Linked DNA regions of Homo sapiens: region 1 is linked to region 2. Evidence: fine-mapped expression QTL. Tissue or cell type: adrenal gland. Region 2 holds a variant in brackets; the other region holds the start of a gene. All regions are shown on one strand. Distances are between the middles of the regions.

Evidence for each region. PIP is the estimated chance that this variant, and not a neighbour inherited with it, causes the effect.
Region 1: CHMP3 starts here. The variant in region 2 is fine-mapped to the expression of CHMP3 in adrenal gland (GTEx, PIP 0.99).

What each region holds. Positions count from the first base shown.
Region 1 is chr2:86,560,968-86,565,967 of GRCh38, forward strand. CHMP3 (charged multivesicular body protein 3) reads right to left here and starts at 2,476. Exons shown (of 6, transcript NM_016079.4): 1 at 2,337-2,476. The coding sequence starts at 2,381. All of the region lies in intron 3 of RNF103-CHMP3 (RNF103-CHMP3 readthrough), which reads right to left. It overlaps CHMP3-AS1 (CHMP3 and RNF103 antisense RNA 1), which reads left to right and starts at 1,103. Exons shown (of 6, transcript NR_183901.1): 1 at 1,103-1,280; 2 at 1,879-1,953; 3 at 2,301-2,432; 4 at 2,721-2,815; 5 at 3,010-3,173. RefSeq lists enhancers at 1,902-2,071, 2,082-2,181, 2,339-2,633, 2,792-2,851.
Region 2 is chr2:86,416,683-86,424,539 of GRCh38, forward strand. No RefSeq gene overlaps it. Among named protein-coding and RNA genes, the nearest start is that of KDM3A, 21 kb to the right of the region's middle. The variant G/C (reference allele first, on the strand shown) is at 4,687.

The sequences.
Region 1 (5,000 bases), 140 kb after region 2:
TGCTCCCATGATCCAATCACCTCATACTAGGTCCCACCTCCAACACTGGGGATGACAATTTGACATGAGATTTGGCGGGGACACAGATCCAAACCATATCAGGTGCCCTATCCAAACCAGCTCTTAAAATGTTTATCTTACTTGCTAGAAGTTAAGTTCTTTGGCTTCTTATTTCACCTTTATAATCCCTCTTTGGGAGGTAGTATAAATGGCATGATAATTCTAAGTATAGGCCTTAGAATACATAACCTCTGGTGCTGTAATTCACAAACTGTATGACCTTGGGCAAATTACCTAAATACTGTATGCCTCAGTTGCCACCTGTAAAGTGGAGACAATAACAGTTCCTACCTCATAACATTGCAGAGTGCTTAACACAATGCCTGGTTCAATATGTTAGCTAAAGGTGGTGGTAGTTAGGGCTAATCTTAATTCACTCTACAATCTTGCTACTCAAGTGTAGACCAGCAGCATCAACATCACCTGGGAGCTTATTAGAAATCTCAGACCCTATCCAAGACCTACTGAATCAGATTTTGAATTCTGACAAGATCCCTAATGATTAGTGTGCACACTAATGCTTGAGAAGCACTGCTCTACAATACCCAGACTTGTCCATAATGGGGGGAAAAACAACTAAAATTTTTTATTCAATAAATGATCTTACCTGTTCGGCTCTGGCAAGCATAGTTTTAAAAACCAATCTCATGCATCAACCCTGCCATTTTCCAGTGTCAATCAGCTTTCTCAGGTAGATTACCCTACTGAAGAGTGTACCAATATCGTGTTCTTAGCAATTTATCATTTAAAAACAATCTAAGTGTACAATATACTAGAGTAGTATAGTAGTACATATACTAGAGACTAGTTTAAACAATAAAGCAACCATTTCCCCAGCATCTTTTTTGCTTCTCCATAATCTTATCTCAATTTACGAATGGCAATGCCAAGGCCAAACACTGAAGACAACAAATAATCTCTCCCTACCACACTTCTACAATAACAAGAATCTTAGAATATACAGATGTCACAAAATGTGCATCTATATAATGTTCTATAGTTTCCAAAGTGATGTTATACCGTTATTTCATTTAAGCGCCACAATTTTTATTTTACCAAGGAGCAAAACTGAGTAAGTTTCCTGACGAAAATAATGAGTGTCTACTGTTCTAGGGCCTTTAACAACAACAACAACAAATTTACATTAACGCACATTATGTGCCAGGAATTGCAAGATGCATAAGATTAGTTTTTAAAATGTGCCTGCTAGAGCTGAACAGGTAAGATCATTTATTAAAGGATTTCAGGATTTTTTTTTTCCATTATGGACAAGCCTAGGTGTTGCAGAGCAGTGCTTCTCAAAGCACTGATGTGCACACTAATCATTAGGGAGCTTGTCAGAATTCAAAATCTGACTCAGTGGGTCTGGAGTGGTGTCCGAGATTTAACAAGCTCCCAGGTGATGTTGATGCTGCTGGTTGGCATTTGAGTAGCAAAGCTGTGCCGTATTTAAAGAATTAGCCCTAACTACCAATATGAAAACTTTACATCCCTGAATCTTCAATTACTCTGAGGTGACACTACTATTATTCTGGCTTCACAGTCGAGAAGGCACTGAGAAGTGAACTTTCCAGAGATCACAGAGCTGAGATGTGGGAAGGCAGGATTCAAACTTAGGTTGACTGACTGCAGGGCATTTTCAACTGTTTGCCTCCCAATATTATCTCAATTAATAGGTAACGAGAGTTCGAAGCCGGGTCCAGAGCTATCTTCTGTAACATTCTTCTGGGTCGAGTCCCTGCCCCGCTACGGTATGTGCCTAGGGTCAACACAAGGGCTGGGGAAAGAGGAAACTGAGCCTCTTTTTCAACACAACAGGGAGGACGGAGAACAGACGGCTCCTCCGGCAGACGCGACCCGGCCCGCTCCAAACAACGCTTCGGGCAGGAGAAGGTTCTCCGGGTGGTCCGCAGCCGGGCTGGAGGGGTGGGGCCTACGCTGGGAAAAGGTTCCGGGCGGGTCGTACCAACGCGCGCAGGGGGAAGAGGTTTCCGAGGCCAGGACGGTGTCGCTGCCTACGCGCTCAGTGGCGAGGTGGAGAAACTCTTCATCCACCCTCGGCTACCTGTTCGAGAGCCATGGCACCAGGAGCTCTCGCGTCCCACAGCCGACTCCTAAAGACTCTTCCTCCGGCCCCCCTGTCGAGTGGGAGTCCCCGGAAATGGGGGCCGGGCGGTATCGGGCAGGCGGTGGGGAGAAGAGTGTCCTGTCATTTACCAACTTCACTACGCCCCACACAGATCCACCCGCTTATCTGCCGCCGCCGTAGCCCTTACCAGTTCTTTGGGCGGCTTCTCCTGGGTCTTTCCAAACAGCCCCATGACGAACTGAACCCGTCTTGCCCCTTCCGGCTTTCAGTTCCCCGCGCCCAGGCAGGTCACGGGCAGCCGCCTGGGCGGGGCCCGCGGAAAAGGAGGTAGTCCCAACCCCCAGAGTAGGGAGCGGCGGCACTAGGGGATGTTGCGCATGCGCCATACGCCTGCGCAGAATCGAGTGAGTGGGAGACTAGTCAAAAAGGCTGACGTCATCGCACATGTTCTGGTCATGTCTGTGTGGGGGAGACCACGGATTCGGTGCTTTTCGTAAGGTGTAGAAATGATTGCTCTGAAAGATACGAATTTGTTGGCTACAACTGCTTCTAATACTTCACCTAAACCTAGATGTTGCACCAGAAGTCTGGATCTCCACGCAGACGTGTACACTTAGCATCACTTTCCCGACAGCTTCATCTTTGTGTCCAGTAGGCAACTCACAGGTGACAAACCAAAAATAACCTCTTTTTCCTCCCGCCAACCCACTCCTCCCCTCTGCTTGCACCACCATCACCTGGTCACTAAACCCTAGGCATCGTCCTCTCTCCCCTCTTACCAAGTCCCAACCATTCTAACTTCAATATGTCTGAACTTCAACCCTCCCCTTTCCATCCCAACTGCGGTCGTTTTTTTTCAGGCCATCGCCCTTTCCAGCGTGGGCGATTCCTGCCTAGCATTTGTCCATGTGTGTCCCGTCCTACACGCCACACTGACCGTGAGCTTAATCACACTCTCAAAGGAATCTGACTAAAGAGAACTAGACACATTTTAGCACGGACAGTTCCTGATTAGGCCTATACGGTGAGCTGATGGTTACTGTCATTAACTCATCCGAGGATGGTGAAGGGGACCATTTGTTACCTCAGCCCCATACTCCTGTCTCTGGTGGAATCATAAAATGGTTCGGCAGCTTTGAAAACATTTTGACAATTTCTTAAAATGCTAAACAAAGCCAGCCTTCCATTCCTAGCTATTTACCCAAGAGGGAAAAAAGCATATGTTCTTACAAAGACTTGTACACAAATGTTCATAGCAGCTCTATTTGTAATAGCCATAAACTGGAAACAATCCAAATGTCTATCAACAAGTGAATGGATAAACCAGTCGTGATTGATCCATACGAAGGAATAGTACTGAGCAATAAAAAAGTAAACTATTGATAAATGCAACAGCATGGATGAATCTCAAAATAATTCTGCCAAGTGAAAGAAGCCAGAACCGTATGATTCCATTTACATAACATTCTGGAAAATGCAAACTAATACATAGTGACAGAGAGTACATGGGCGGTTGCTAGCGGATAGGAGTGGGGTCAGAAAGAGGCAGAAAAGAGGGATTACAAAGAGACACGAAGTTTAGGGGGATGATGGATAATATCTTGATTGTGATGATGGTTTCACAGATGTATACAATATCAAAACTTACCAGGTTGGACACTAAGTATGTGCGATTTATTTTATGTCCAATCATACTTCAATAAAGTTGTTTTTAAAAAAGCACTGCCTGTTCATTGTGAAAAGTTAAACCCTCATTCTCACTTCCTCAGGGGAAAAGGTCTCAAAGGATTCACACCAACTATTAAATATAGTGTGAATCTTCTGAAACCTTTTCCTTTGGAAAATATACTTTTATTTTTATTTATGTATTTGTTTTTGAGACCGGGTATCACTTTGTCACCCAGGCTGGAGTGCAGTGGCAGGATCTTGCCTCACTGCAGCCTCTACCTCCCAGATTCAAGTGATCCTCCCACCTTAGCCTCCTGAGTAGCTGGGTGTCAGCCACCACGCCCACTGTGTTTTTAATTTTTCTGTAGAGACAAGGGTTAGCCATGTTGCCCAGGCGGGTCTCAAACTCCTGGGCTCAAGCGATCCTCCCACCTCAGCCTCTCAAAGTGTTGGGATTACAGGTGTTAGCCACCTTGCCCGGGCCTATTTTTACTTAGTTGAGATTATATTATATACATTGAGCCACCTCTCCCAGCCCTATTTTTATTTAATTGATATTATGTTATATACGTTGTCCTACAATTTCCTTTTAAACACATTTTATGTAGACTTTCATCAGTGTCAATACCTATGGCAGTCCATAGCAAGAATGTACCATAATTTATTTAACCATTTCCCTATTATATAAGATTGTTTCTAGTTTTTCCCTAGTAAATAATCCTGCAAATATAGGCACAGTTAAAAATTTTAAACTTAATACCAGTATCTTCCATATACATTGCACTATTGTGAACTCCTACCAATAGTGTATACCAGCACTCTTATTCCCTAAATCCATGCTAAAAGTGAATTTTAGCAATATTTAAAATTTTTGCCAATCTAAGGGCATAAAATATTGTTTTTAACTTTAATTTCCCGGACTATTAGTCTGGATAAGCATCTTTTCATATATTTGTTGGTCATTTGAATTTCTTCTGTGACTTGCTTCTTCATAACCCTTGTTCATTTTCCATTTATCTCCCTCCTTCCCTTCCTTATTTCCTTTCTTCCTTCCATTTTAAAGGTGAAGGAGTTCCTTGAAAATGTGGAATTTTTTTAAGTCTCTTTCACCTTTTTTTGAGAATAAACTATAAGCATTTTTTTCAAGTAGGAGGATACTGGATCGCCAATTAGTCAACAGTAT
Region 2 (7,857 bases):
CTTCTGTCTCTTTGGAATGTCATATTCTGAATATTTCATATAAATTGAATCACACAACATGTGGCTTTGTGTCTGATTTCTTTCACTTAGCCTACTGTTTTCAAGGTCCATCCCTGTCGTAGCACGTGTCAGTACTTTATTACCTCTTATGGCCTAAGGATATTCCATTGTATGGATATAGTGAATTTTGTTTATCCGTTCATTAGTTGACGAACATTTGGGTTGGTTCTACCTTTTGGCTGCTGTGAATAGTGCTGCTTATAAATATTTGTGTATAATTTTTCATTTTGTTTATTCGTTCACTAGTTGATGAACATTTGGGTTGTTTCTACCTTTTGGCTATTGTGAATAGTGCTGCTTATAAATATTTGTGTATAATTTTTCATTCAAGTACCGGTTTTCATTTCTTTTGAGAATGTAACTAGAAGTGGAATTGCTGGGCCATATGGTAAACATATGTTTTTAATAGACCATCTTTAAAAAATACTACATAAATAAAACAATTTTTAAAAATTATTATTATATTCTATTAGTAAGAAAGAGCTCTCAAGCAACCATGAGAAAGGAAAAGAAAGAGAAAAAAACAAAACAAAACATGCATTAGGATGCAGATTCCATTGCTATAAAAGAAACCAAAGTAACAATGGCCTGGACAAAATGTTAGTTTATCTTTCAATTAGGCAACAGTCATGAGGTGAGGGCCACTTCCTTCTGTCTTCAGCATGCAGCTCCCAAAATGACTCCTCCAGTCCCTACTACACTTAAGGTGACCAACCCATCAGTTTGCCTGAAACTTTACCAGTTTTTTCACAGAAACTCCTGCATCAGGAACCCATATAAACTGAGACACTCCAACCTGTATCACTCCAGCTAACTGGAGAGGGAGAAGAGAAAGTGAAGTAGAAATCATGTTTTCCCTTTAAAGAGAAGACCTGGAGGTATATTTACTGTTTCTGTTCTTATCTTATTAGCCAACAGTCCCATGAGCACATCTATTTATAAGGAAGGCTTGGAAATGTAATGTGGAGCTGGACAACTATGGGCCCAGATAAAAACTGAGGATTCATGACTAAAGAAAGGGGAGAATGGCTAGGCAGAGACAACTAGCTGTCTCTGCCAACACACGTGGTAAAGAAAGGTACCAGGACACGATGCAAGTAGGGAGAGATGTGCAAGGAAAAAATGTGGTATGTCACATGTGGTATGTCATTAATTGGTTTATAAGTTTGGTTGTTAAGTGATTATTTCTTCTTTGGATACTTATGATTCACCAGCTGGTAGTAGTGCCATATTAAACAGGTGTCCCTTCCTTCCTTCCTTCCTTCCTCCCTTCCTTCCTTCCTTCCTTCCTTCCTTCCTTCCTTCCTCCCTCTTTCCGTCTTCCTTTTTCATAAGGAACATGACTTTATCAGTCAGGATCCTGGCAGTAGTAGCATGGGTAAGAGATGACTGAGGAGAGTGGAATGAAGGGACTATACACAGGGGAAGGGAAACCACAGGGATGGTGTAATACTCCAGGGCTAGCAACCAGGTAGAACCATTACCACCCCTTGTCTGAAAGGAAGGAGGGGTTATGGGAGCTTGGAAGGAGCAGCTGTGGTTGTTCAGAGGGCCACCCAGCAGGGGCTGTGGCCTCCACTAGAGGAATAAAGTTAACCCAAGACCCAGCAGGGAAAGAAAGAGCCTTGGGAATAAACATTCACCTCTCTCTCCTTCCCTCCAATCTCCTGCCCGACAGGAGGATCAGCCTCTTGGGGCACAGAGAAAGGAGAAGGGCCAATCTGCAGGGGCAGGTACAAAATAGCCAGCAAATCAACTTTTCATTAAAACAGTCCTACTGTACAGTTAATAACTTAAATGAATTAATAAACATTACATAGTTACCTTACCTTTGAAATTAGCCTTAGTATTGTTGATTATAACTTCATTGAATCCAGGCCGGGCACAGTGGCTCACCCCTGTAATCCCACCATTTTGGGAGGCCAAGGTGGGCGGATCACTTGAGGTCAGGGGTTCGAGACCAGCCTGGCCAACATGGTGAAACCCCATCTCTACTAAAAATACCAAAAAAAAAAAAAAAATTAGACAGGCGTGGTGGTATATGCCTGTAATCCTTGGTACTCGGGAGGCTGAGTGGGAGGATTGCTTGAACCCGGGAGGCAGAGGTTGAAGTGAGCCGAGATCACTGCATACTCCAGCCTGGGCAACAGAGCAAGACTCCGTCTCAAAAGCAAACAAAAAACGCTTCACTGAATCCTGGTCTCATATAGATTTGCAATTCCCACCGCAACTCACCTTGAATCTGATTTTGAAACCTGATCTAGGACTCCTGCTTATCCACCAGATTCACTTTGTAGGTTTCTGTCTCTGTTTTCAGTAGGGTATTTTACCATATTATGAAATATATTTTGTTTATCCCTGCAATTATTCCTTTGAGGTAGCTTATTTGATAGCAATGCACTCCCCCTTCCAATAAAAACAAATAAGCCAAACAAAACAAGCCATCTTTCTGAGTATGCATTTATCTGGGGCTTCCAATGAGATGTTTTAAATAGGTTCCACGCTACCAGTAGTTATTAATCTTAAAAAAATCTACTTTTCCTTATAAAGAAGGCATATAAATCAGTAAGACCGGCACTATCTCCCTAACTAATCAATGGACAAGGATATAAATAAATTTTTTAAAAAAGGTAAGAAATATTCAGCTTTACTTGGAATCTAAGAAAATCAGTTTTAAAACCAACCAGGTACAAATTTGTTTACTAGAAAATTCAGGGAGAATGAAAGGATTTAGTATTTCAAAATATTATGCAGCACACAAGAACTGAAAGCACATGCTTCTTGAAGGTCATAATAAGAGGATACAGAACTTGGATAAATTATTTTTTTGGTGAGTTAAAGATACCATAATTGGCACCGTCAAGCTCAAAAACCCATGGAAATAGACTGTGGTGGCCCACAGAAGTAAGCACAGCCACTTTGGGAATGTCCCACAAAGAGCATCTGTGAGTAAGGCCACTGTGTGAAAATGGGGTGATACGTTGGCATGGGTTGCATCCTGAATCTCCTATTTTTCACAGCTCACAGCCAATCCATTGGCAAAGCCTTTAAAATACATCTATAATCTGATCATCTCTCACCACCTCCAGTGCTACCAATATCTCTCACCTGGACCAATAGCCTCCTAACTGGACCCCCAACTTCTGCTGTTGTCCCAAAGAGGATTGTGTTCAAACACGTCAGATCATTATCTGAAAGCCTTCCAGTGGCTTCCCATTTTGCTGAGACTAGAAACCAGAGTCTTGCACTGTCTATAAGGACTGACACTGGCCTTCTGTGGCCTGTTGACCTCATTCCCCTTCACTCACCCTCCTGCAGCCACTCTGGTCTCCATGGGGCATGCCAGGCACACTCCTGCCTTACAGCATGGGCTGGCCCCTCTGCCAGGAATGCTCTTTCCACAGTTACCCACATGGCTTGTTCTCTCACATCCTCAGGTCTCTGCCCAGAGGTCCACCTTCTCACTTAGGAGCCTGTTCTTAGCTTTATTTTTCTTCATAGCACTTTTTACCTTCTGACATTCTGTGCAATAGACTAATTTACTTTTTGCCATCTCCCTACTAGCATCTAAGTTCCAGGAGGGCAAGATTTTTTTCTGTTTTATTAATTATGGCATTCCTAGTGCCTAGAAACAAGGCCAAGCACATAGTAGGTGTTCGGTAAGTCTATACCTATTTCTCCACTATATCTGATAAATACAAAATTAAGCTGTAAGTATCCTTGGGCTGGACTCGCATCGGAACTAAAACAACTTTCCTACCAGTCTCCTATCTCACGGATAGTGTCATCATCTACTCCATGGCTCAAGCCAGAAAGCTGGGAATCATCCTGGATTCCTCCTATACTTTCAGCTCCTCTCTAAGCATCACCAAGTCCTGCTGATTGTTCCTCATTGTTTTCCAGTCCCTTCTATGTCCTTCCACCCTGACTGCCACTAGTCTGGATTAAGCCACTATCATCTCCCCTCTAGATTAAGAAAAGTCTCCCAACTCATCTTCCTGCTGCTCTCACCTCTTCCAATTTATAATTTATGATGTAGTTAATCAAAGGGATATTTCAGAATGCAGATCTGCACAGAGATGCTTAAGCTCCTTCAGTGGTTGCCCCTTACCTTAAGCATATGGTTCATATTCCTTAACATGGCTTAAAAAACCCTTTTCATCTGGGCACCATCTAACTATTTAGCCTCTTTTCTGTAGGCCTACATGCTCTTCCCATGGTATTAAATACTCTCTACATCTCCTCTTTGCCTGGTTTACAGATTTGGTGTCACTTCTTCCAGAAGGCTGGAGCTTTGACAGAACGCTGTACTTCCCTATCATAGCATCCACCACCCACTTTGTCGACTACTCCCACACCCCACCTCACTTACTCACCCTATTCTGTGAGTCCTGCAAGAACGATAATGAAGGCTTGGTGCTCAGCCCAGTCTCAGGGAGTGAGAGATGGCATTGGAGCTATGTCTCAAAGGCAAGCAGGAATTAGGCTTTGGAGAAGGGATGGGTATTCTGGGTTCTCAGTAAAGCATGAGAAAAATCACGAAATCAAGAAACAGCAGCATAGGGATGCGGAAGTACAGCTATGTTCACATTAATCAAGGTTAATATGAGCAGAGGAGGAACAAGT[G/C]GGGAGAGGGACAGAGGAGCTCAAAAGCCATCAAGGGTCTTTAGATTGTTCTTTCCAGCCACTGAAGGGTTTTTGCTATGGTCAGATTACACTTCAGGTGGACCATTCTGGTAGTTTTGAGGATGACACATAGGAGGTCAGGGGAGCAGTGAGGGGATTCCACTTCCCTACAGTACATCATGCATGATGACTATGTCCTCAAATCTTCCTTATCAATGGTTGTAACAGCCAAAACAAGCTTTCAGTTTCAATAATTAAGCCAATAATATGCCTAAGTTTTTATGGAGGTGAGAAAATAGTCATAATAATTTTTCTGTTGGAGAAATATTTAAGATAATCTCTGAATTATTTCATTTTTCATGACACTTCCCCAGTTTTCCAAGGTTAGGTTTTCTACAGCTCTTGTTAAACCAGGAACTAGAAGGAGGAAACTCAAAGAATGGATAAAATCATTTAATTTATTGTGGCTTTGTGATAAGAAATGAGAGGAATGCCTCTCTGACTTTAGGCAAATAAGATAGAGTTCAGAAAAACTCTAGACCAAAATAATCTATCAGACTTAAAAAAAATTCATTGATGGTTTTCACCATGAATTTTCTTAACACCATCTCACTTTTATTAATCCCTTGATCTTACCAGTCCAACTGTGAGCTCCTGGATAGTTTAAGAGTTATGACTCTTTGTGCCTTACATATATGTTTCATATTTCACAAAGTGAACCATCTCTTTCTTGATCTATTTGGATAATTTTTCTTATTCTTCAAAGGAACATGCTGTAATACTTTGCTATTTTTAAATCAATTTTATAAATACTGTGATGGAATATGTAGGCAAAATATGCATAACTAAACAACCTCTTTTCTTTCATTAAAATATTTCCATATCTGCCTATCTATCTAATGTATGTTATTTTATCTAACCCTATGTGGTAGGTGTTAGTGGAATAATTTTATCTTTGAGAAAACCAAGCCCCAATCAAATTAGATAATGTGCCCAATCATCCAGTAAGTGACAAAGCTAGGGCACAAATCAGGGCTTGTGAGTCAAGCCTTGTTCTTTCCATTGTGTAATTGCCTCTCCTTTTGTCTATTATTCTACTAGTGCAATTAAAAGCCTACAGCAACACCATGAATATCACCAAAAGAAAGACCCCTCACCCCCAGGAAAGATCTTAAAGGCTAAAAGGACTCTGTGGGAGATAAACCTGATGACAAAAGTAGAGATCTGAGGGGGCAAGACCCAGAAGCACAGCTGATTGTGGGTATGTTGAGATACAGGTGAGAAAGCTTTGTAGAGTCTTTGAAACACCTCTCAGATTCTACTATTACAGTCTACACCTAAGGCAGAGCCATTATGTTGGATTTATGTTTATTTCACAGGTCATCATTGCTTTACTGCCTGTTTTACTCTTATTTTAGATCTGTAAGCCCTTAGATACTTGATTAGAAGGCAGCAATATGAAAAATAAAATGAGTTATTTAAAAATTCTTAATTTTCTTTGAGTACCTTTATGGTTTCTTTTTTTCCTGGTTTCTCTGACCTTCTGGTATAAGGTGTGAGGTAGGGATTCAACTTCACCTGTTTTCACATGACTACTCAGTTTGTGTTGTGGGACTATTTGTCCTATTTGTAGCCACCCAGTGTCATTTGAATCATATTTCTATACTTGTGGATGTTCTAAAATTGTATTCTGTCTCATCAAAGTAAGGCAGATACAAAGTCAATTCCCCAGCTTCTCCTGTGGCTCTGAAGAAGGTGCATGACCTAGGTTTCATCAACTAGGTATGCATTCACGAAATCTTGATTTGGAAAAAACATCATGAGAAGGCAGGTACTACAAAACATAGTTCCCGAAGAGGGTGATGAAGCACAGCAGAAAAACATGGAGAAGTTAGCAACAGCAACAGCAACAGCAACAGCACAACTATGGTGTGAAGTATGTTGCCAGCACCAGAATGCTGCAGTCATTCCTTTGAATAGTTTGACAGGCTAATTCAGTTTCCAAGTGCTTCACCTCAAAGCCTAACTCTCTGGCCCATCTGGAAAATTTGTAATCTATTAATAATGTTTAATATACTTCTTTTCTGTTAAAACTGTCTCAGATTTTATCCTGTAATTGCAAATTAGAACCTATTAATATGTATCTTGACACCATTTATTGAATAATTTATCTTTTCCTCCACTGAGATGAATTGCACTTTTGGTGGACTTCTATTAGTTTCTGATACTGTTTCTGGAAAGATAGTATCAGGAACCAGATTTACCTTCTTGTATGAAACAACAAACAAACAGAAAAACTAGACAAAATATATGAAACAATGGGGTTCAGACATGACATCAAGTGGGGCAGGACAGTGATCCCTAAGAAAGGCAAAGCAAATAAAGTGAGCCCTATGATTACCCCAGCTTACTTTCTTTTTATTTTTTTTCCCTCCCTTCCTCAGATCCTCAGTTCCATCATGGAGCAACTTACTTTCTTGAGAGAGTTTTCAGGCCACAGTGCAGTATGCAGGAACTCAGGCAAGACCTGGAGGTCTCTCTGAATTGAATAGAGTTGGGAGATTGGGAAGTCTAAGGCACCTAGAGTTCCCACACACAGTGGCACAGGGGAAAGAGTTGCATAAAGAGAAAGTTCTAGATTCTGTAAAAGATTCACCTTGTCATCAGCTAAATACTGATCACAGCATGCAAGTAACTACTCAAAGCTAGAGAAATAACTGTCTCAATGGAATGTAGTCAGCAGAGCTCACAGAAGGCTAGGAATAGTCCATGGTTATACCAGGCAGAGTGAAAAACATCATAACTCAGGGGGCATTGGGTAGAGTCCTCTGAAGGGAAAAACAAGCCCTAGACTAATTGCCTCAATAGTATGGTAAAGTTAGCCCTATTGTAATAGCTGCTTGTCCCAGTTAACAAAGTCAAAAAGAAGTCTCAAAAGGATCCAACTGTTTTTACATAACTTAGCTGCATCTCATAACAAAGCTCAGTAATATTTGAAGGAATATAAGAATATCCAGCACCCAGCAGAGTGAAATTCACAATATCTGGCATTTGATCAAAAATTATGAGACACACTATGCAAAATGTGGAGGAAAAAAGATCAGTCAATTGAAACAGACCAAGAAATGTCAAAGAGGGTAGAATTAGTAGACAAGGGTATAAAAACAATTA